5 linked regions of the Homo sapiens genome follow. The protein of the gene in region 1 purifies or fractionates together with the protein of each later gene. This does not show direct contact. Each region holds a gene or a part of one and is shown in the gene's direction. Other genes may lie near its edges. The genes, in order: FARSB, RANBP3, SWAP70, GART and GHRL.

Evidence for each region.
Region 2: the proteins of FARSB (region 1) and RANBP3 fractionate together in Homo sapiens (co-fractionation; one large-scale study listed by BioGRID). This does not show direct contact.
Region 3: the proteins of FARSB (region 1) and SWAP70 fractionate together in Homo sapiens (co-fractionation; one large-scale study listed by BioGRID). This does not show direct contact.
Region 4: the proteins of FARSB (region 1) and GART fractionate together in Homo sapiens (co-fractionation; one large-scale study listed by BioGRID). This does not show direct contact.
Region 5: the proteins of FARSB (region 1) and GHRL purify together in Homo sapiens (affinity purification with mass spectrometry; one large-scale study listed by BioGRID and IntAct). This does not show direct contact.

The regions. Positions count from the first base shown.
Region 1 is NC_000002.12:222,641,494-222,646,840, reverse strand, and holds part of FARSB (phenylalanine--tRNA ligase beta subunit), read left to right. Parts: exon of another isoform or gene 1-40; intron 41-494; exon of another isoform or gene 495-1,219; intron 1,220-1,919; exon of another isoform or gene 1,920-1,956; intron 1,957-3,835; coding exon 3,836-3,990; intron 3,991-5,347.
Region 2 is NC_000019.10:5,967,024-5,972,370, reverse strand, and holds part of RANBP3 (ran-binding protein 3), read left to right. Parts: intron 1-5,347. UniProt on the Homo sapiens protein: Acts as a cofactor for XPO1/CRM1-mediated nuclear export, perhaps as export complex scaffolding protein. Bound to XPO1/CRM1, stabilizes the XPO1/CRM1-cargo interaction. In the absence of Ran-bound GTP prevents binding of XPO1/CRM1 to the nuclear pore complex.
Region 3 is NC_000011.10:9,739,512-9,744,858, forward strand, and holds part of SWAP70 (switch-associated protein 70), read left to right. Parts: intron 1-669; coding exon 670-836; intron 837-5,347.
Region 4 is NC_000021.9:33,509,990-33,515,336, reverse strand, and holds part of GART (trifunctional purine biosynthetic protein adenosine-3), read left to right. Parts: intron 1-3,878; coding exon 3,879-4,085; intron 4,086-5,347. UniProt on the Homo sapiens protein: Trifunctional enzyme that catalyzes three distinct reactions as part of the 'de novo' inosine monophosphate biosynthetic pathway.
Region 5 is NC_000003.12:10,284,931-10,287,777, reverse strand, and holds the end of GHRL (appetite-regulating hormone isoform 1 preproprotein), read left to right. Parts: intron 1-296; exon of another isoform or gene 297-490; intron 491-965; coding exon 966-1,074; intron 1,075-1,883; coding exon 1,884-1,903; 3' UTR 1,904-2,112; downstream 2,113-2,847.

The DNA.
Region 1 (5,347 bases):
AACTATACAAACCAGAAAATCACTGGAACTGAAGAAAAAGGTAAAACATACGGCAGAAGAAGTCAAGTCTGAATTTGAGCAACTTAGGTTATTTCTGCAAAATGAGCAAGAGACTGTTTTTGGGCAATTACAAGATGACGAGATGGATATTTTAGCACAACTAAATGAAAGCCTAACAAAATTTTCAGATTATACCTCCTCATTAAAATATCTACTAAAGAAGATAGAGAGCATATATGTGAAGTCAGAACTGGAATTACTGGCTGATGTTAAGGATATCTATCACAGACATAAGAATTTAAAATTCCCTAAACCTTTTTTATTCAAATTAAAAGAATATGGTTACCATCTGTCTCCACAATATTGTGGCCAAAACAAAATTATCAAGCGATTTCAAGTAGATGTAATTCTAGATCCTGAAGCAGCACATCGTAAACTTATAGTCTCAGAAGATAGAAAAACTGTGCGATATGGAAATACAACACAAAACTTACCTCATAACCCAAGAAGATTTTATCTGCTCCCAGCTGTTCTGGGTTCTAAGGGATAAAATTGTGGCAGGCAGTACCGGGAAGTAGAAGTTAAAGACATGCCTGAATGGATTCTTGGTGTCTGTAGTGACTCTCCTCCCACAAGGAGGAAGAGTCAACCAATTTTAGTACAGGATGGATTATGGAGAATTTGGTAATCTAGTCGGAATAATTATATTGTATTGGGCCATAAGGAAATTATTCTGCTGCCAAAAGTAACACCTAGTAAGATTGGCATTTTTTTAGACTGTGAAATGAATGAGGTTTCCTTTTATAATTTGAATGATAGATCTCTTCTCTGTACTTTTAATGATGATTTTACAGGAGAACTTTGGCCTTATTTTTATACTGGAACTGACTCAAAACCTCTTAAAATTTCTACAGTAACAGATTCTGTATTTTCTTTCACCTAGTAGACATAACTGAGCCAGTTAATCTAGTTTTGGCCATTCTGTATTTTGTCCAGTTTTTCTCATAAAAAAACAATATTTTTTATCTCAATTTCAGCAACTTCCAAAAAATGTGATTATGGGACCTACTTTATAATAAATTATGGGGTCAATGACAAAGTACTTTAGAAATTCTATGGTAAAATACTTGAAAAATATATTACTGAAGGAACGTATTATGTAAGAAAATCTATTACTTTTGTAATTGCCAATAAAAGCCCAATTTTTTTCTCAAAAAAAAAAAAAGACATACTTTAATTTAAAAGATAATTTTCTGATAGTTAGTATTATTTTTTTCCTAAGCCTTCTATCTTCACCTATTCAGTGCTTTTATAACACTACCTTAGGTGTAAAGTTAAAAAATGTTCAGGCTAAAAAATTGTACATTATCTTACCTTATTTTTCCTGCTGCCTTACTAATGTTACAGAAAGATCATCTTTGTACTAATCTATTTGTATACTTGAGAAATTGGCTGAGATTTCTGTAGTTTATAAGTTGCTATTCGTAATTTTACTACACCTCAGAATTATGTTTGAAATTATGTGATATCTAAGAGTGTTGGACTGGATGTTAGATTATTTGAGTTCTAGTTCTAACATTTACTAGCTGTGTAACTATGGACAATTACTTTGCCTGTCTGAACTCTATAGTCCAGACGAGTCTCTCTGGGCCTCCTTTTCATTTGTGAAATAAGGGGTTTGGATTATATGATCTTTATGGTTTTCTTTTTTGACTCTGAAATTTATGTGATTTTAAATTTCTGTAAGATTATTGTCAGGTAGCACTGACAAATTCAGTCTTTACATATGGTCATTGTATGAGCTGAGATGCTGAAACTGAAAGAAGATGTAAGCTTCTGTGTCTTTTTTTTTTTTTGCAAAGGAATTAGATCTTTTTTTACAGTAGTTCCTCCTTATCCACAGTTTTTTGCCTCCACAGTTTTGGTTACCTGCAGCAAACTGTGGTTTGAAAATAGGTGAGTATAGTACAATAAGAAATTCTGAGACAGAAAGAGACTACATTCACATTACTCTTATTATAGTATATTATTTTAATTGTTCTATTTTATTATTAGTTGTTAATCTCTTACTGTGCCTAATTTATAAATTAAACTTTTTCATAGGTATGTATGTATAGGAAGAAACATGGTATATGTAACATTTAGTCCTATCCAATGTTTCAGGCATCCACTGGGGAGCTTGAAACATATCCCCTGTGGATAAGGGGGTGCTGCTGAAAAATGAATGCAGATGCCTTCATTTCTCCGGTTATTATATTATCTTCTCTGTATATAGGTCCCTCCTGAGATCTGCCATCTCCTGGGAGGTGACTCAGCTTTCTTCACTATTGAAACAGTAATTTTATTAACCCCTTTGATTGAACATTGTTTAAACTCGAATTCTTCCTCTTCTCTTTTTGCCTCTCCCCATTCCCCTTCTTTTCTTTTCCCCCTTTTTACTCCTTCCTCCTCCTCTTCATTCTCTTGTTTTTCATTTTTCATTTTCCCTAATTATAAAAATTTGCCTCCTAAGTTTGAGATGCCCAAGGTAGAGGTTTTTTGGAGCCCAGCACCACCTTGTACAGCCCCAGCATTGCATAGACTCCTGTGGTTCCTCAGGTGGGACTTTGGCACATAATACTCGTGGCCAGAAGTGAATTTCTCTGCATATTGTGCAAATGTGGATATAATTCTTAATTTGGACAAAAATTTGAACTACTTATATTGTGGCAGTGGGAGGGCATCATGTAAAACAAAAATCATTACATATTTTGATAGAAATCCATCAGTTATTTTAGCAGGTTGTTGGTGGTGGAAATAGTAGGAATTCTGGTTAAGTGGAGTTTCCACATAATTAAAGCGTAACATTAACAGTTGGAATACAACTTGTAATCATTTCAAGTGAAAATTTCTTAAATATATTTACAGTTCCCTGCTGTAGTAAACATAAGGAATAGAGTGTAACTTCTCTGCAGTGGTTATGTTTAAGAAAATCTGTTACTCTGCTGTAGTGTGGTGCTTGAGATATTCTAAACTCTTTGCCACTGCATTAAACGTGATTCTAGTGGTGTTTCTTCTGTCATCTCCCTCTTGGCTGCCTTCATTCTGCTGCACTATCCCTTTGCTATCACTAGTTTGCTTCCCATTGTACCTATTATCCCTTCTAATTTTTACCAGTGTCTGATGGTCTCTGACTGTTTTTAGTTTTTATACTACCCCTCTCATTCTCATGTGGACTTGGGTGCCCACAGGATTTAGGTTTTAGAGTCATCCTATAAGAAGTTGTGTTTCTTTTATTTAGTGAATCATCTTTCTTTTACCCCTTTGACACTTTTGTTGTTGTTACTTTATGTTCTTGGTGATGTTTTAATTTTCTTTTAGCTTGAGATGGGAAAACTTTTTCTGTAAAGGGCCAGATAGTAAATATTTAGGCTTTTTGGCTCTATAGTCTCTGTTACAACTCAGCTATTGCAGTGTGTAAGTAGCAGTAGATAATATGTAAATGAATGGGTCTGTCTGTGTTCCAATAAATCTTTATTTACAAAAACAAGTATCAGGTATGATTTGGCCAGGGGGCTATTGCTTGCTGACCCTTGTTTAGATGGATTTGTGCTTTTCTGGGGTGATTGAGGTTGCCAGATATCTGAACTCAGTTAAAGCTGAAGTATTTTTCTGTCTGCTATGATTATAACACTTAATATTTTCATGTTGTTTTTGTCGTGGATATAATAATCCCATGTTCTTGTTATAGAAAATATGTATAATGTAGTTACTGCCTTATAGGGCTGACAACTTTTACTTTTTAAAGAGAGTTTAAATTATTTAATTTTTATCATTACTTTTTGGCTTGTTTTAGACATCTGAGAAGGAAATAATAAGTAAAGAACAAGGTAATGTAAAGGCAGCAGGAGCCTCTGATGTTGTTCTTTACAAAATTGACGTCCCTGCCAATAGATATGATCTCCTGTGTCTGGAAGGATTGGTTCGAGGACTTCAGGTCTTCAAAGAAAGGTAAGGAAATATGTTCCTTAAAGACTTTGCTAAGTTGGGTTTTCTTTTCTTTCCTTGTCATTATCAGCAGCCATGTTTAAATTTCTAGGAAAAAGCTTGTAGAGGAACGTAGCTTTAGCTCTCAATAGAGGGTTGATTTGAGGAATTAGATTCATGCAGATTGTAGCCATTTGAAAATTTCCATGAAAATTTTAGTCATAGCCATTCATCTTTGAGAACATATTTTAAAACTGGTGTTTAATGCTTTTATGGCGTCTTAAAAAATTATTTAGCAGGTGTGTGTGATTCCCCTCCGTGATCTAATTGGAATGAGTAGTTCACTGGATGTGTTAAAAGTTGAGAGGAAATGGAGAGCTAGCAATAAATACCCTTACATTATGAGTTCTAAGGAAGCTCAGGAGTGAAGCCTCCTAACTGGAAAAACCAAAGATCTTATGACGGCTCTGTGATCTTGAGCAAGTTAGTTGGCCTCTCTAGTTTCAATTTCCTAATCTATAATGAAGAAGATTTATAAGGCCCCTTCCAGCTTTTCATTTAATGAAGATAGAGGGGCTGGACATGGTGGCTCATGCCCATAATCCCAGCACTTCGGGAGGCCGAGGCTGGTGGATCACTTGAGGTCAGGAGTTCAAGACCAGCCTGGCCAACATGGTGAAACCCCGTCTCTACTAAAAATATGAAAATTAGCCAGGCATAGTGGCGTGCACCTGTAATCCCAGCTACTCAGGAGGCTGAGGCACAGAATCGTTTGAACCTGGGAGGTGGAGGTTGCAGTGAGTCGAGATTTGCACCACTGCACTCCAGCCTGGGCAGCAGAGGGAGACTCTGTTTCAAAAAAAAAAAAAAAGATAGAGGATAACAAATATATACAGTGAAAAAAATGAACAGCTATTAAAAATTGTTTTTATTTTTGATTACTTCTTCATTATCTGGTCAGCTGCAAAAGAATAAGAGTTCTAACTGATGGGCTAGATTCTGAAATTGTGAGGGTTTAGGTGAGTGATGGGTATTGGTGAAATGGTGATAATTAGGCATTAGGTTAAGGATGGTTAAAATTTTAGAGTTGACTCAGTTGGTTTCCTATGGGACAATCAGATGCTTTTATTTTAGGATCAAGGATAACTCCTGAGAGTTCGTTTCCCAAACCTGCCCAGTGAGAATCTGTATTTTTACCAGTCACCTTGTGATTTTTATGATCAGACAGAATTAGGAAAGCAACTTAAAATGTTTTCTACTTAAAGTGAGTCCATGGACCAGCAGCATCTGAATCACATGAGAACTTACTAGAAATGCAGTCTTAGTCGCCACCCAACACCTATTAATCAGAATCTGTGGTTTAACAAACTCCCCAATTGAT
Region 2 (5,347 bases), on another chromosome or scaffold:
ACATGTCCACAGTTTGCTTCCTCCTCAGTAGTCTTGGCACTTAGAGCTGCCACACAGCACTAGCTATGGATCTCAGCCCTGGATGGGCTTCACACTTGTTTAAGGAGGTTGTCAGGGAAAATCAAAACTGCTGCCTGGGCTGCACCATTGGAGATGGTTCCAGGAGTTCTAGGGTGTCTGTGGTTTTAAAGAGCTCCACAGATGTTTAACAACATGAAGCCAGAGTTGAAAACCACAGGCAGAAGTTGCAAACTTGCCTGAAGGGCAAGCAGACATATTTAATTTGGCCCATTTAGGTTTTTGTTTGTAATTAGGAGCCAACACTTAAAATTCTGAGATTTCAGAGGGGAAAAAAATTGTATTTCTGATTTCTCTCAGAAAACAGCAACCACCCTTGGCCTGCATTCTTGCACAGCAGTGATTTTTCAGTGCTAAGGAACAGCTGCGCCTGTGGATAGATTAGATTGGATATTGTGGTCTCCGCCATGTTACTTGGGGCCTAGCCCACTTCCTTCTCTTCCAGTGCCTGTGACCTTGGTTGGTATTTGGGTTTCAATCCTATTATACAGACTCCTAGACTCTGCATTCTCTACACTTAGAGTGCTCTTTAGCTAGAACCTTAGCATAAAGCACCTCATGGTCTGTAATTTAGGATTTAGTGTCCTTGGAATGCTAGAACTCAGATAGCATATGGCAGCAGTTCTCAAAGATGGTCCGGGGCCCTGCAGTCCCCAAGACCTTTTCAAGGGGACTGCAAGTTCAAAACTATTTCATAACAACACAAAGACACTATCTGCTCTTTTTTCACTCTTATTCACTTGAAAATGGACAGTGGAGTTTTTTTCCAGAGGTTATTGGATGTGTGATATGCCAACAGATGAACTATAGAAGCAGATAAGAGAATTCAGGCCGGGCACAGTGGCAAACACCTGCAGTCCCAGCTACTTGGGAGGCTGAGGTGGGAGGATCTCTTGAGCCCAGGAGTTCAAAGCCAGCCTGGGCAACAAAGCCCCTCTCTTTAATAAAAAAAAAAGAGAGAGAATTCAGCTATCTTCTATTAAGTCAGACGTTAAAGACATTTGTCAAAATGTAAAATAATGCCACTCTTCTCAGATTTTTTTAAATACTTATTTTTCATAAAAATATGTTATTTAACTAAACCTTTCTGGAGTTTATTATAATCTTAAGTATTTTGAAATTGTCTTAGGTTTCATTTCTAATATGGTGTCAGTAGTAGCTACATCCCACATTTCCAAAAGCTCTTGGGGATGTTCAGTCATTGACAAGCGTGGAAAAGGGTCCCGAGACCAGGAAATTTGAGAACCACTGGCATGTGCTAGCAGAGCCTCAGTGTACAGTGTGGGTTTCTCCGCTGCCTTGCCAACATCGGGAGAATTCTAAACCAGAGCTGACCAGCAGGTTCCCATTGGCAACTTGTGGCATGGTTGGAAGCACCTGGATTGGCTGTCCTTGGTTTGTGTCTTGCCTTCTGCCCTAGAAACATGGGCAAGTTGTCTGACCTTAGCTCTTGCATCTGTAAAATGGGAACGATGATACGCAAGTCTGAGGATTGTGGTGTGAGAGAGAATATACTTCTGGTAATTGACCTACTGGAATGTGGAGATACATGTCAGTTACTTCTAGCTGTGATTCTCCTAATTGGATGCCTGAGTAGAGAGAAAGCACCCTGTGAGTTATACCAGGGTTTTTCCACCTCAGTATTCTTGACATTGGGGCTGGTGGTGGCCATCTTGTGCTTTGGAGGATGTTGGGTAGCCCCTCTAGCCTCTACTCATGTGATGCCATAGCACCCAGTCATCCCACCCATCCACTCCCAGTCATGAGAAGATAAAAGGTCTCCAGACACTGTCCAGTGTCCCCTTAATGTCAGAATTGCCCCCACTTGAGAACCATTGGGTTATGGGATTTCATTGACACCCAAGAGACTTTGTGTTCCATAGTTATCTAACCTACTGAGGTCGTAGGAGCCTGTACACATTTAAAGCCACAGTCTGAGTGGGGAGGGAGAGAGGCGGTGAATCCCAGAAGCCAGGGTGGGGGGTCACCCTGGTTTGTGCCATCTAATCTATTGGGGATTTATTTTGGTGTATAATGTGAGTTAGAGATCCAGCTCAATTTTTTTGCCCAAGATTAATGCAAGGTTTCTTGCCCTCAGCTCAGTTGACATTTGGACTTGGGTCACTTGCTGGTAGGGCACTGTTCTGAGCCTCCTAGGATGTTGGTCAGCATCCCTGGTCTCCATCCACTAGATGTCTGTAACAGTTTCCTCCACACCCCCACAAACATGACAGTCACAATGTCTCCAGATTTTGACCAGTGTCTCCAGGGAGATGAAGTTACTCCTGGGTGAGAACCACTGGTCATAGGATCAAAGGAACCTACCCAGGAATAAATTAATTGCCAGCTAGAGTTTAAGGCCCTTCCTCCCAACCTTATTTTTCTATTCTGGCCTTTTGGCAGCTGAGTAGGCCTCAATGGACATCATATCCCTCTTCAGGAAGAACAGTCTTTTCCTTGACCTTTAACACTGCCTCTGGTCCAGGGTGAGGACCTGACAGAATGTAAGGGCTGGGAAGAACCTTCAGGGATGCCTGAGTCCTGGCTGCACCATTTCACAGGGGCTGAAGCCCGAGGCCATGGAAGCAGGTAGGGCTGGCTAGGGCCAGTGCGCCTGTCTCCAGCCATGGAGTCTAGGAGTTCATGCTTGTCCTTCCCGGTGAGTCAGTAAACTCTAGGTAATGGGCACTCGTTCACCCCTGAAAACTGACCCGCGTAGGGCACTGCATTTCGCTGTCGCTGTTTATGGTGTTCAAAGAAAGGGAGGAAATTCTAGAGACAGTAGTAGTTACTCCATACACATGTTTAGAAGGCAGGCCTTGCCTTTTGCAGTAAGTTTAAAATGCCTTTGCTAAATTAAACTCCCCCAGGTTTGCCACAGAGAATTTTGGGAACTTATTTACCCAGAATTAATTCCTGCGTTGCATCTGTGAGAGCAGAGCGTGAGTGGAAACGGTCCTTGAGAACTTGCCTTTCTCTGGGGGAGAGGGTGAGAAAACAGGCAGTTACCCTCTGCTCAGAGGAGAGAGGATGTTTTGCAGCATTGATGGTGATGGCCACTGGGTCCTAAGAGTCCAGAGCCTGGGCCCCAACCTTTACACTGGATAAATCCAGATTTGTCAGCATGGCCTGCAAGGCTGAACGTCCTGTGGGCTCCACCCAGCCCTTCCCGTTCTCCTCCCCTCCAAACATGGGCCTCCAGGCTCTTCCTTTCCTTAGAACCTTTGACTTGGGGTCCCCTCTGCCTGGGATCCCCTGCCTTCACCTGGCTCATCCCTGCTCACCCTTCATGTGTGAGCTTCAGCGAGGCCTTACCCATTCACTCACTCTCTCCCACCATCCTGTGGTATTTTCTCTGCAGCACCCAGCTCCAGAACTACCCAGTTATCTCTGCACACAGCAGGTACTTGTTTGTTTTCTCTTTCCCAGTAGAGAGCTGCGGCCTTGTCTGCCATTTCTTTCCTGTCTCCAGTGGCAAGCTCGGTGCCTAGCACAAGTCTGTGCTTGGTAGATCCTGCTGGTGAGAGCAAGGCTTGGCTGCTCGGCTCGGCCTGCCTTCAGATCCCACCTGTTTCCTGTGACCTCAGAAGGGCTCAGGCATTCCGAGCACCTGAGCGTTTGCCTTGAGTGTCCCAGGCGTCCAGGCAGCTCTTGGATCCAACCATTCCACCCCCTAAAAGGGGTCAGACTCTGACGCATTTGTCGTTGCCGGGCACTGGCAGCTGTCCTTGAATCCAAGGCCTATGCTTTAAGGTGGCATCAATATGTTTGCAATCTTCCGAGCATAATAATGCTACCAGTGCCAGTGTGGAATCATCCTGTGTGCCAACCACTTCCCCAAACACGGCATGTGCAGCATTTCATTTCATCCTTGCCGAAGCTGCCTGGGGTGAAATAACAGCCCTGATATGCAAATGAAGACATTGTGCCAGAGGTACATTGTCTTATCTGGGATCCCAACCGCAAGTAAGTGGCCAGGGCAGGTTTGAACACACACAAAGACCAGAGCCCGCGCTCTCCAGTATCATCAGTTTTGCTCTGCTGCCTCAGCATAAATTCTGTAGTTCTTGGATTTCCTTCCTGTAAGCTTCCGTGTAGAGAGGAGGGGATTCCTGTTGTCTCTACTGGAACTTTCCCGAGTCTTCAGCCACTTGCATGTTGCCTCAGCTGTGTTGGTGTCACACCACCTAGTGGCGGAACAGAAAAGTGCCGTTAAAGCTGGATCCTCCATCTCTCCACGCAGTTTTTTCTTTTTTCTTTCTTTTCTTTTTTTTTGGAGACAGAGTCTCACTCTGTCGCCCAGGCTGGAGTGCAGTGGTGCTATCTCAGCTCACTGCAACCTCCACCTCCTGGGTTCAAGTGATGCTTGGGTCTCAGCCTCCCGAGTAGCTGGGATTACATATCCCACCAGGCCCAGCTAATTTTTGTATTTTGGGTAGAGACACGATTTCACCATGTTGCCCAGGCTGGTCTCAAACTCCTTTCCTCAAGTGATCCACATGCCTCGGCCTCCCAACGTGCTGGGATTACAGGCATGAGCCACTGAACCCAGCCATCCATACAGTTGTAGGCAGAGTTGCTGACTTTGTATAACTTTATGGGGTTTCTGTTCAGAAGTGCAAGTTCTGCCCCCCGGGGCTTACGGTCTGGGTGGCGCAGGAGTGGAAGCTTAGAAGGGTTTGGCTGCAGGGCTGATAAAGGTAGAAATAAAGAAGGCAGAATGTGGCTTGGCCCTCATGGGGTGGAGTGGGATATGAGGAGGATGTCATGGGGATGCGTCTATGATGAATGAGACTAGATATGTAAAGTACCTACCTCGGAGTCCAGTAAAGGCCTTTTAACAAATGCCTGTTGCCCCTGCAATGCTTGTTGGAAGTGTAAGTATCTGGTGGTGAGATGAGAGTGGTTGGAAGTTGGCTTGGAGTTCGGTAGTTGAAGGTAATGCCAAGATGATGAGCATTCCAGAAAGAAGTACATAAAATGTAGGATATCATCAGCTCCAAAAAGTGTGTCCCCATAATCTCCATGAGACCAGTTGAAAGTTATAGAAATATATTCGAGTATTGAGAAAAGAACGGAGTCATCCAGGGTCCCACCGCCTTCCACTAGCTGGGCTGGAGAACCCGAGCATGCTATACACGGAGATCCGCAGAGGCATCACCTAGCAACTGCATGTTTGAGATCAGTTCCATTCCGTACCAAAGAATCAGTTGGAGGACAGACCTGACACGTCAGTGACAGATTTACCTTTGTGCTGTGGCACAGAACT
Region 3 (5,347 bases), on another chromosome or scaffold:
GAAAATATTTTATCAACTGCAGAGAAATAGGCTAATGTGTTTGTTATATTTAGGATGTTCTTGTCTTGTAATTTTTAAGGCAGGGATTCAAAACTCTGTAATCCAGAAGGGAAAAACCATTAACGTATACAGATTAACTGAAATGCTTGAGTTCCTCTAGGGCTGGAGGTGCCCCAGGGAGTGGAGACAGCCAGGGAAGTGTGGGAGGAATCCCATGCTGGATGACCTTTCCTTCTTCTTTAGTGTAACACTAAAGAAGACTGGGAAAAGGTTCGTTTGCTCTGACTGGGAAAAGGTTCGTTCCTTTTAGAGAAGACCCTATTGGTAAAAAGATTGTGACTTTAAGACAGAAAGGAATTTAGAGAGAAATTACACAAGGAAACATTTTTTTCTTGACTTGAGTCTTAAAATGTGGAGTGGAAGGGATGGAAAATACAGCAGGGCAGAACATAATTTGGGTTATAATTTGCTCTTCCCAGACTCTTTCACTATTGCGATTGGGTGTGGTACCCTCATCTCCTCCATCTTTAAGTTCAAGGATTGAAGGACAGGGTCCTGCCACCCTGATGGGCTGAGGCTGCAGCTGTGGGCAACCCCTCAGGTGGAGGTGAGGCTTTCCCTGAGAAAGAAGTCAACCTGCATTTAAACAAGACCCTTTTATACCAACAGATCAGACAGCAGATGGAAGAACAGGTTGCTCAAAAGTCCTCTGAACTGGAACAGTATTTACAGCGAGTACGGGAGCTGGAAGACATGTACCTAAAGCTGCAGGAGGCTCTTGAAGATGAGAGACAGGCCCGGCAAGATGAAGAGACAGTGCGGAAGCTTCAGGCCAGGTGCCAGATTTGTTTGCAGACTTTGCCTTTATGTACTTTGCCTGGGCTAATACAGTTTCTTGGAATGACTAACACTCTGGTGGAGAGGGAGAAGTGTCTCTGCTCTGGCTGTGACTGAGCTCGAGGTGCTGTCCAGATTAGAAAGACTGTGGAGACTCGACCGGCTGGAGTGTTTCTTTTCATTCTGAGGCGCTGGGAAACCCTTGCTTCTGGGGCTAAATAAGGGCCTATTTTAGAGCAGTCTGGTAGGTATGTTTGATGAGGTACCCTTAGTCTTATTCGAGAAAATCCACAAACCCAGAATTACCTCTGATAAGAGCTTGGCATCTTCAACACGCTCCAGACCAGAGAGGGCCATTGGTATGCAGGCAGAGGCCTGTTCAGGCCAACGTTGCCGTCAGGTTTTGAGGAATAAGGAAGAAATATGCAGTTTCTATTTGGTCATTCAGGATTGGTAACATTCCTTCAGTAATTACTACTTGAAATCCTAATTTTAAAAGTATTTGAAACCTAGATTTTTTTTCCCCTTAGAACTTTATGATAGTCATGTTCGCAGATGAAAATTCTCAATTTTGGGCCTTCATGGCAGCAGGGAGGACAAAATAAAATGAAGACTCCCAAAGGGAAAAATTGAGCCTATCCTCTGCCAGTTTCTACTTTGCTGCCCCATTTACATTATTTAAGGTGTCTGGGATGGGAGACAACACTAAAAAGTATTCACTACAGTAGCAGCACAGGGTCCAGTCTTTGATCTCTGACCCCCTGTTTTGGGGAGCAGTTATGAGATGAGCTAGGGTAGATTTTCCATGGCTGCCATTTTACATGTGGAGCAGCAAAAGATGTTTCTTTAATCTTTAGATAGGAAGAGAAAGAAGAAGCCATCTTTAGTTGTATATTTTGCCAAAAGTGACTTCAAAAATAAATAAATTGTTTTGGACATTTAGATTTTAAATTTAAATTTTTTTAAGGAAAAATTATTTTCTAAATAGAAAATTAAGCATGTAGCATATTGCCAGGCATATATAGGCCCCACAGGTGCACATTCACTGCACTGTGAGGTTAATCAGGTTCTTGGAACTCCCCTCCAGTGCCACTCGGCAGTGATTTTAGCAGAAGAGTCACTCTACGGGAATGTTTGAGTGCCATGTGACGTCCAGAGTGACGTTCTACATGACACTCAACATTTTTTGAGCCACCTCATAATTTGAGCCGTGTTGAGAGTTAATAGATTGTTTTTGTGCAAAGAATTCGCAGGTGAAATATGCTATATGTATTACTGCAGTTTTGTGGGAAGTTGATTATGACACAGCAGAGACTAGATCACAGAGGGAACCAGATAATTCTAGAAATACTAGTCTTAGTTATTTAGTGTTTATAGAATGAGTGATATTTTGAATAAGGGATAATTTTGGATAATTGAAGCCAGTGGTTTTTTAACCAATGTTATGTATCAGAATCACCTCACAAAGCTTCTGAAAAATACACCACAAAGTGTGGCTCACCCACCACACTTTGGGAGGCCGAGGCTGGAGGATCACTTGAACCCAGGAGTTTATGACCAGCCTGAGCAACATGGTGAAACCTCATCTTTAAAAAAAAAAAAAAAAAAAAGTCTACTTGGGAGGCTGAGGCAGGAGGATCACTTGAGTCCAGGAGGTTGAGGCTGCAGTGAGCTGCATTTGCACCACTGTACTACAGCCTGGGGGACAGAATGAGACCCTGTCTCAAAAAAAACACAAAACAACAACGGCAAAAAACTCCAGCTAATTATTTTGCACACTCTGATTTAAGCAATAGCAAAATGGTTTCAACCTTTTGAATCCAGATGTAACTTCTACATACAGCTCTGATCCAATATGCTGAAAGTACTGCACACAAATTTAACTTTTTCTTAATGTGCAAAGGGCATTTTATGAATATAATTATTTTATTATTCTAAATTTTTTTTTCTCTTAGTTTTTGGAACCTGAAATGGACAAATTTGCCCCCCTGCTCCCTTTTTTTTTCTGAGATGGAGTCTTGCTCTGTTATCAGGCTGGAGTGCAGTGGCGTGATCTCGGCTCACTGCAATCTCCGCCTCCTGGGTTCAAGCGACTCTCCTGCCTCAGCCTCCCGAGTAGCTGGGAGTACAGGCGCGCACCACCACACCTGGCTAATTTTTGTATTTTTAGTAGAGATGGGGTTTTGCCATGTTGGCCAGGATGGACTCCATCTCCTGACCTTGTGATCCGCCTGTCTCGGTCTCCCAAAGTGCTGGGATTACAGGCATGAGCCACCACGCCCGGCCTAGTGGTCATTTTTAAGTGAAATGTGTTCCTCTTTCCTGAAGTCACTGAAGGCTGTGGCTGATTCAGAGGGACTTTCTGTCAGATTGGCAGAGAGGGTTTGTTCTTTGCTCCTCAGGATAGGCCTTTCTGGATAGAAAAATCAAGGGAAGTCATCCTGGAGTTGGGTTGGAAAACTGGCACTAATGAAATGCACATAATCTTACGCCAAGGGCCTGTGTAAAAGGCTGCTCAGTTAACTCTTCTCACTCCTTTTTTTTTTTTTTTAATTTTATTATTATTATACTTTAAGTTTTAGGGTACATGTGCACAATGTGCAGGTTTGTTACATATGTATACATGTGCCATGCTGGTGTGCTACACCCATTAACTCGTCATTTAGCATTAGGTATATCTCCTAATGCTATCCCTCCCCCCTCCCCCCACCCCACAACAGGCCCCGGTGTGTGATGTTCCCCTTCCTGTGTCCAAGTGTTCTCATTGTTCAGTTCCCACCTATGAGTGAGAATATGCGGTGTTTGGTTTTTTGTTCTTGCGATAGTTTACTGAGAATGATGATTTCCAATTTCATCCATGTCCCTACAAAGGACATGAACTCATCCTTTTTTATGGCTGCATAGTATTCCATGGTGTATATGTGCCACATTTTCTTCATCCAGTCTATCATTGTTGGACATTTGGGTTGATTCCAAGTCTTTGCTATTGTGAATAATGCCGCAATAAACATACTTGTGCATGTGTCTTTATAGCAGCATGATTTATAATCCTTTGGGTATATACCCAGTAATGGGATGGCTGGGTCAAATGGTATTTCTAATTCTAGATCCCTGAGGAATCGCCACACTGACTTCCACAAAGGTTGAACTAGTTTACAGTCCCACCAACAGTGTAAAAGTGTTCCTATTTCTCCACATCCTCTCTAGCACCTGTTGTTTCCTGACTTTTTAATGATTGCCATTCTAACTGGTGTGAGATGGTATCTCATTGTGGTTTTGATTTGCATTTCTCTGATGGCCAGTGATGGTGAGCATTTTTTCATGTGTTTTTTGGCTGCATAAATGTCTTCTTTTGAGAAGTGTCTGTTCATGTCCTTCGCCCACTTTTTGATGGGGTTGTTTCTTTTTTTCTTGTAAATTTGTTTGCTCACTCCTTTCTTAAAGCAACAGCCGATCATTCGTGGAATATTTGGAATCTCATTATTCTTTTAATGGATAGTTCTTTCTCTGTCAGTCTCTTAAAAAGACAGTGTCTTAAAAAAAAAGAGAAACTTTTTATAGTAAATTGTTTAAATGAAAGACAAGAACTTTAGCTTGAAACACGTAGATCTTGTAATTTTTTTTTTTTTTTTGAGACGGAGTCTCGCTCTGTCACCCAGACTGGAGTGTAGTGGCGTGATCTCGGCTCACTGCAAGCTCTGCCTCCCAGGTTCAAGCCATTCTCCTGCCTCAGCCTCCTGAGCAGCTGGGACTACAGGCGCCTGCCACCACGCCCAGCTAATTTTTTGTATTTTTAGTAGAGACGGGGTTTAACCGTGTTAGCCGGGATGGTCTTGATCTCCTGACCTCGTGATCCACCCGCCTCGGCCTCCCAAAGTGCTGGGATTACAGGCTTGAGCCACTGCACCTGGCCAGATCTTGTAATTTTAAAAATTACGATTGAAGTTTTTTATTAACTTTTAATTTTTGTGGGTACACAGTAGGTGTTTATATTTGTGAGGTACATGAGATATTTTGATACAGGCATACAATGTGTAATAATCACATCAGGGTAAATGGGGTATCCATCACCTCAAGCATTTATCCTTAGTCTTACAAACAGTCCACTATACTGTTTTAGTTAGTTTTAAATGTACAATTAAATTATGATTGACTATAGTCACCCTTTCTGCTATGAAGTTTATTTTTTTATGTGTAATCCTGAAGGTGATCTAGCCACTTCTGAATGAGAACTCAGAAGAAAACTGTTCATTTAAAATGTAGAATACTCAAGTTATTGGCCGGACATGGTGGCTCACGCTCTAATCCCAGCACTTTGGGAGGCTGAGGCGGGCGGATCCCTTGAGGCTCGGAGTTTGAGACCAGCCTGGCCAGCATGGTGAAACCCTGTCTCTACTAAAAATACAAAAATTAGCTGGGCGTGGTGGTGCATGCCTATAATCCCAGCTACTCGGGAGGCTGAGACACTTGAATCCAGGAGGTAGAGGTTGCAGTGAGCTGAGATTGCACC
Region 4 (5,347 bases), on another chromosome or scaffold:
ATAAAGTCAGAGAAACTTTTCCAGCTATAGTCAACTAATACACATTGATTTGAAGGAGTAGAAACTGAGGGAGTTTACATAAAATAACTTCTCTGTGAAGTATTAGTGAGATGATCAGGCCTGGGGTGGGAGCTTGAAGAGAGGAGTGGATAAAGCAGTCAAGGTCAAACAGGAGTGAGACAGTGAGCAGGACTGAAGGCACAGGTGAAGGTGAAGCTGCTCATGTAGTTTTTCTCCCAGAGCAAAAGCATGTATATAGCTTTGAAGCAAGAACAGAAAAAAAATAGATTAGTTAGGTTGATCCAGCTGAACTAAGCAGGTATTGGGGTCATTCATTGGGGAGAAGCAGTCAGAGTGATAGAGGTGAGTAGATATGGTGAGCTAACCCAAGAGTCAGAGCGTATGTGAAGCTCGGAGAGAACTGAAGAGTCAGAGGTAGGTTGTGTGGAAGTGAGGAAATCGGCAAGGGAAGCTGGGAGAGTGGTCAGATGGGATTTCAGCCTAGTCAGGGAAGCAAAACAGACAGGCCAGGCTAGGCTGAGTGGGAGTCTCTTCCAGGTCCATGGACTGAGCATATTAAGGAGTTGAAGGATTCATAGGAGGGTGAAACTAGTGGTTCAAGACATTCCTTGGGTAGAAATGCTTTCTGGTGAGCATATATAAGAACCTTAATAAGTAGTTCATTCATCATCCTTTTCAAATAGTTAAAAAACAGTGGCCTGCTGATGAATGGGGAAAGGAGGCAGGACTGATTTGTGCATTTGCCAGTTTTTGTGGTATAAATACTCCCATCATAGCTGCTTTAAAAATGGCTGTTTAACAGTCTCTACAAGCTGGCTCTAGCACACCACTAGTTAAAAACAACATAGTAGTCACCTCATTAAGAAACTGAAAGTGATATAGCCATATTCCTGAAAGCAGTTATAGTTTGAGTTACACAAATGTCTGTATTCCAATAAAAGCCATTGCACAATTCCTTGCATCAGCCTCTAAAGTTTCTTCCAGGAATCATACTTTGACAACAGATTTAAGTAAGGACTTCTGGGGGTTTTTTTGTTTGTTTTTTATTGAGACAGAGTATCACTCTGTCGCCCCAACTGGAGTTCCGTGGTGCGATCACAGCTCACTATTGCCCCAACGTCCTGGGTTCAAGTGATTCTCCGACCTCAGCCTCCTAAGTAGCTGGGACCACAGGTAACACGCCACCACACTTAGCTATTTTTTGTATTTTTAGTAGAGACGGGGTTTCACCACATTGCCCAGGCTGATCTTAAACTCCTTGGCTCAGAGCAATCTGCCCATCTCAGCCTCCCAAAGCGCTGGGATTACTGGCATGAGCTACCACACCTGGCCAGGACTTTTCAACATTAAAATTACAACTTACATTATTCATGAAGTACTTGTTCATTTATAGAAGCTAGACTCTTAGTCTGCCAGTGTTTTTTCCTATAAATATTTTGTAAAACTTCACTAAAACAAGATCATAATTTGGTAATCTGCTACTTGCCCTGCCATTAAATATGTCATCACTATCTCCTTGTCTTAGTAGCATCATTTTTGATAACAAGTATTCCATTTTACAGATGTACCACTATTTAGTTTTAAGTTGCTATTTACTTTTAACTATTGAGAGCATAGTGAACAATGTAGTTACTAAATCTGAGGTCAACTATTAAGAATGGACATTTCCCAGCTACTATAAATGGAATTGAATCTAAGAGTCATAGACATGTGATTCATTTTTATTTTTATTTATTTTTATTTTTTTAGACAGAGTCTCACCCTGTCGCCCAGGCTGGAGTACAGTAGTGCGATCTCAGCTCACTGCAACCTCCACCTCCCGGGTTCAAGTGATTCTCCTGCCTCAGCCTCCCGAGTAGCTGGGATTACAGATGTGCGTCTCCACGCCCAGCTAATTTTTGTATTTTCAGTAGAGATGGGGTTTCATCATGTTGGCCAGGCTGGTGTCGAACTCCTGACTTCGTGATCTGCGGGCCTCGGCCTCCTAAAGTGCTGAGATTACAGGCCTGAGCCACTGCACCCGCCTCATTTTTAAAATTGTATCAACTTCAGGCTGGGCATGGTGGCTCACCCCTGTAATTCCAGCACTTCGGGAGGCTGAGGTGGATGGATCCCCTGAGGTCAGGAGTTCAAGACCAGCCTGGCCAGCATGATGAAACCCTGTCTCTACTAAAAATACACACACACACACACACACACACACACACACAGAGACACACACACACACACACAAATAACCAAGTGTGGTAGCACATGCCTATAATCCCAGCTACTCGGGAGGCTGAGGCATGAGAATAGCTTGAACCCAGGAGGCGGAGGTTGCAGTGAGTCGAGATCACGCCATTGCACTCCAGCCTAAACGACAGAGAGATACTCTGTCTCAAAAAAAAAAAAATTGTATCAACTCCAAAGTATTAAAAAACTGATTATCAGCTGAGCATGATGGCTCATGCCTATAATCCCAGCGCTTTGGGAGGCTGAGGCAGAAGAAGCCCAGGAGGTCAAAACTAGACTGGGCAACATGGTAAGACCCTGTCTCTCCAAAAAAAAAATTTTTTAAATAGCCAGGCATGGTGTCGCATGCCTGTAGTCCCAGCTACTCAGGAGGATGAAGTGAGAAGATCACTTGAGCCTGGGACATCAAGGCTACAGTGAGCCGTGTTCATGCCACTGCACTCCAGCCTGGGCAACAGAGCCAGATCCTGTCTCAAAGAAAAAAAAAATTATCCAATAAATAAATCAAATAAATAGGCAGAACTGATAGTAAACCTTATTATTTAATAAAAAGCTGAGTTCACATTGGCTTCCCTTTCTTAAGAGCATCATAAATAATTTAATTCAGTATAGTTTTTTTAAAAAATCAGATCCCATAATCGTAGATTCCAAAGAACTATCCAGATTCTTTTTAAATTCAGAAATGTTGTGTGTGTGTATATAGACCTTTACCTAAAAATTTTTATTAGAGATTTTTGTTGTATTATTTGTGATAAGAGAGAATGTATTCTTTTTTTTTTTTTTTTTTTTTTCAATTTGAGTCGGAGTCTCACTCTGTCCACCAGGCTAGAGTGCAGTGGTACCATCTCGGCCCACTGCAACCTCCACCTCCCAGGTTTAAGTGATTCTCCTGCCTCAGCCTCCCGAGTAGCTGGGACTACAGGTGTGCGCCACCACGCCCAGCTAATTATTGTATTTTTAGTAGAGAATGGGTTTCACCATCTTGGCCAGGGTGGTCTCGATCTCCTGACCTCGTGATCCGCCCACCTCAGCCTCTCAAAGTGTTGGGATTACAGGCATGTAATCCAAAGTGTTGGGATTCTCACGCCCGGCCGAGAGAATGTATTCTTATAGCAGACCTAGGAAGTCTAAATTTTAAAAAGAATGAGAGGGAGAGGGTGTTGATCCGCCTTCCATTAACATAACTTTTCTTGAGGAGTGTATGCATTTTCTCTAAATATGTAGATAAGCCATCTAGTTTTGCATTGTACTTTGGGTGCATTTTGGTCATCACAAAGACTCAGCCAAACATTCACAAAAGGATGGTATACTGGCCTTTGCTGGAATTCAGCTACTAGCTCATCTGATCCATTAGGGAATGTCTAAGGGTCTAGTTAGTTAATGTAGCACAAAACCTCACTCATTTGTGAGTACTGGCCAAGTGTGTCAACAAAAAAATGTTCTTAATGTCTAAGGTACAAATGGATCCCCAAATAAAAAGTTCTCAGAGGCCAATTTATAGTTTTACCCTACATAAAATAGCAGAGCCTGATTATAATTTCCACATCTTTGAATATGTGCATACTTTTGTACTTTGTGTGAGAAGGTAGGAAAATCAAACAATTCGTGTCTATTTTTTTCAGATGCCCAGACCTGGAGGATCCCCAGGGTCTTCTCATGGTTGCAGCAGGAAGGACACCTCTCTGAGGAAGAGATGGCCAGAACATTTAACTGTGGGGTTGGCGCTGTCCTTGTGGTATCAAAGGAGCAGACAGAGCAGATTCTGAGGGATATCCAGCAGCACAAGGAAGAAGCCTGGGTGATTGGCAGTGTGGTTGCACGAGCTGAAGGTACTTGCTCCTTACTCATTTTTAGATATATAATTTTAGCTGTATAATTTTAGCTATACCTCAGCCTTGCCTCACAAGCTTTCTGCCCACCTTTTAGTGCAGCCATCGCTATGGCAACTATCTTTACACAGATGTAACATGACAGCACCCACCCCAGCGATACCACGTATCTCTTCATTTCTGCCTCAGAACTAAGCATTCATGCATGCACAGCCACACCCCACAGGATCGCTTCCCAAAGTAATCTCCCTACACACAAGACCTCATGGCTCTGCTGTCACTCAGCTCGATTCAAGGAATAGCGAGCAAGCACCCTGACAAGTACTGTATCAGTCAGGACTCTGCGAGAAGTGCTAGAACTTGGCAGAGGGGCAGAAAATCCACTCAGATTCACTAACAAAGACGTCACATGCTTGCTTTGGCAGGACACATACTAAAATTGGAACGATACAGAGAAGATTCACAAAAATAAAAAATAGAAAAAAAAAATGTCAGACCTTGTTGACTTTACCTGTATCTGCCTTTCTTTCCTCTATTGTGTAGGATTCATTTTCAAGCGGGTTCTCCAAATGCCGGAAAGATAACATCCTTCAGCTCACATTACAATAAGAAAGAGAGACCCAGCCGGGCGTGGTGGCTCACGCCTGTAATCCCAGCACTTTGGGAGGCCGAAGCGGGTGGATCACGAGGTCAGGAGATCAAGACCATCCTGGCTAACTCAGTGAAACCCCGTCTCTACTAATAAATACAAAACATTAGCCGGGCGTGGTGGCGGGCGCCTGTAGTCCCAGCTACTCGGGAGGCTGAGGCAGGAGAATGGCGTGAACCTAGGAGGCGGAACTTGCAGTGAGCCGAGATCGCGCCACTGCACTCCAGCCTGGGCAACAGAGCGAGACTCCATCTCAAAAAGAAAAAAAAGAGAGACCCTCTTTTTCTTAACATCGCATATCAAGCCTTTAAATGGCTTTGCTAGGTCACATGCTTATCCCCGAGACCAGGAGATCATGGCACTACTGTGGGTGGTCTCGCTAGGAAGATTTGGGGAGTAGGGGCAGAATACTGGCAGGCAGTCATATATATCCACCGTGCACTTCAAGATAGTGATGTGATCTGCAGCTTTTAGTTGAAGTAATTACATATGTTCACCTTTTGGAAGTTTTTATGAAAGAGTAGTGTTAAGTGATACAAATGTGTTGTTCATTTTAGTCCTTGCATTATCTTATTTTCAGGATAAAACATACCCTAAAGTTTTCATAAAATAT
Region 5 (2,847 bases), on another chromosome or scaffold:
AGCGCCTACCCCACAGGGAGGCACTGAGGACGCCTGGCCTCACACAGAGGAAGGGCAATAGGACTAAAGCAGTTTTCAGGGCCAAGTGGGTTTAAAAGTCCTGCATTCTAGTCCTTGGCCTCCAACTCCTTGGGCTTCTACTGTGAGGACCAAATGACCCAGCACTAAGATCCTTCCCTGACTCAGATAAGTCAGTGCCCAATATGGCCAGGCACCGAGGTAGCCACTGGCAGAGACAATCTCTGCTCTCAAGGAAAGTCTGCCATGTGGCTGCAGCAGAGCTCCTTCCCACTTACCCAAAGCTTTGAGCTCCAATAAATCATCTCAGGAATACCTGGAAAATGGAAGAGATGAGGCGCTCTCCCTGTAGAGGGGAAGAAATGGAAGCACAGAAAGGACTTGGCTCAGAGCCTCTTTCTAGGAAAACATCAACTTCCTTTTGATTTTCCAGGCATCAAAGAAAGGTCTATGCATATGAGAGAAAAAATACCTAGGGAAGGAGAAAAAGGAGAAGAAACAGACAAGAGAGAAAGGAGAAAGAGCTGGGAGCAGGGAAGGAATAGAAGGCCAGCAGGCCAGTGCTGAGAATGCTGGGCAGACCCCCTGCCAGGGCCTGAAATGCTGCCATTGGTGACTCAACCTTTTGTCTTCAAAACTGCAAGGGAGAAAAAAAATCTCACACTAGGGGGCACCACAGCTTTTATCAGCAATCCCATTAGAGGCTAAGGCTGAGAGGCATGAGAGTGCAAGGTAAGTGTCTGAAAGATGGTGAGTGGGAAGGTGAGCTGTGGTCCTGAGAAAGGAAGAGAACCTGGCTGAGGTGTCACTCAGCAGTCCCTGCTGGGGCCCAAAGGCCATTCTCCCTCTCCACTCCTGAAGAGAGGCAGAGAGCCCAGAGCCCCCTTTGAGATGGGGATGGGCATGACCTCTGACATCTCCTGGGTCCTCCCTGCCCTGCCTCCTAGTTCAACGCCCCCTTTGATGTTGGAATCAAGCTGTCAGGGGTTCAGTACCAGCAGCACAGCCAGGCCCTGGGGAAGTTTCTTCAGGACATCCTCTGGGAAGAGGCCAAAGGTGAGTCCTGCCTGGACTGGGTTTGCTCGGTTTCCTTGCAGCCCCACATGGGAGTTCACTCTGTGGGTGATGAGTTTTCCCCAACCTCTGCCTCTCCAAAAGAACTTCTAATTTCCCTTTCCCAAAGATCTGCAGGATAGTGGTTGGCTAGTATTTGTGAGTGGCTCAGAAGGGAGTTCATCATAGTCTTTGTGTTCAAAGAATGTTCTAAGAACTAGTACATTAACTAGCTTTGGGGCCTCAGTTGAACCTCAGCTTCCTTAACTGTAAAATGGAGCTATTTTACCTATTGTGAGAGTCTACAATTATTTGGTGTTACACCGTCTTCACTGCGTAACTTTACTCCACAAACAAAAAGGAATTGGTGCCAAAATAGCACTCAGAACAGGTTCTGCAGCCTGTTAAGCAGTTCCTTCAAATATTAGAGCTTCCTGAGTTAAGCAAAGGGTTTGCTTTGAATCCCCTCACCTTGTAAAAGAAAAAAAAGAAACCGCCCAACTGATTGAGGTGGCAGAAACACCTGCACATCTGCAAAGCACTGTCCTCACCAAGGCGGTGACCCGTCACCCCTGGGGAACAGCAGGGGTAGCATTCACCCCGCTGTGCAAACGAGGAAACCAAGACTCAGAGCTTTGAGGTGACTTGCCCAGGGCACAACAGTCCACACTTGAGTGCCGCCCTCTGACTCCAAGGCCAGTGCTTCCCCACAACCCCCACCATTACATCCCACCTCCAATCTCACCACCGTGGAAGAAAAGCACTAGCAGGACGGTGCACCCAGCATTCTTACTCAACCTCTTGCTTTCCAGAGGCCCCAGCCGACAAGTGATCGCCCACAAGCCTTACTCACCTCTCTCTAAGTTTAGAAGCGCTCATCTGGCTTTTCGCTTGCTTCTGCAGCAACTCCCACGACTGTTGTACAAGCTCAGGAGGCGAATAAATGTTCAAACTGTATGCTGATGTTCCAAATGGGAATTTATTTCAAAGAGGAAAAGTTAATATTTTACTTTAAAAAAATCAAAATAATACAAATAAAAATAATTCTTGGTTTATGGTCTGTGGGAAGGGAATAAAAGGACAAGTAGCAAGGCCAATGTGCATGTTTAGAAAACCTAATCACACCAGCTCACTCAAGCAGAGAAGCTACTGCATGTGCATGCATTGTGTGGAATTAAGACTGGGTTTCTTAGAGAAGGAGGAGAGAAAGGGGGAGAGTAGGAGGGAGAGGGGAAAAGGAGGAGGGAGAGGAAGAGAAAGAAGAGATAAAGTGGGACTAAGAGAAAGAGGGAAGAGAGGAAGAACAAAGACACAGTTCCTTTAAACATCAGGGCTTCCTGAGTGCAAGGCTGCATTAACAGCTTATTAACAACCAGCCAGGGCTGTGTGGACAAAGAAACTTCAGGATGACATTATCGAAGCCAACATCCATTCAAGATTGGAGAGGAAGACAGGAATGCCCAAGAGTGAATCTGAAGTTAGACGTTAAGTGAGGTGCCCAATCACGGCTCTTGGGCACTGCTAGACAGCACTGAAAGAGCTGCATTCTCCTTCCTCCCTTCTCCACTACTGAGAAGGCCTGACAAAGCAAATGCCTCACATGGGCAAGGCTGGCCGTCGCCATGGTTCCCTTACTGATACCAGGTGGGATCCCCAAACATTCCCTCAACTCCAGTTCACAGCAGACACGAGCCTTGACTCTTATGTTCCACAACTTAATTCCAGTTACGACACTGGTCTTCCCGGGGGAAGGCCACTCGGTCATGCCCACCTTAG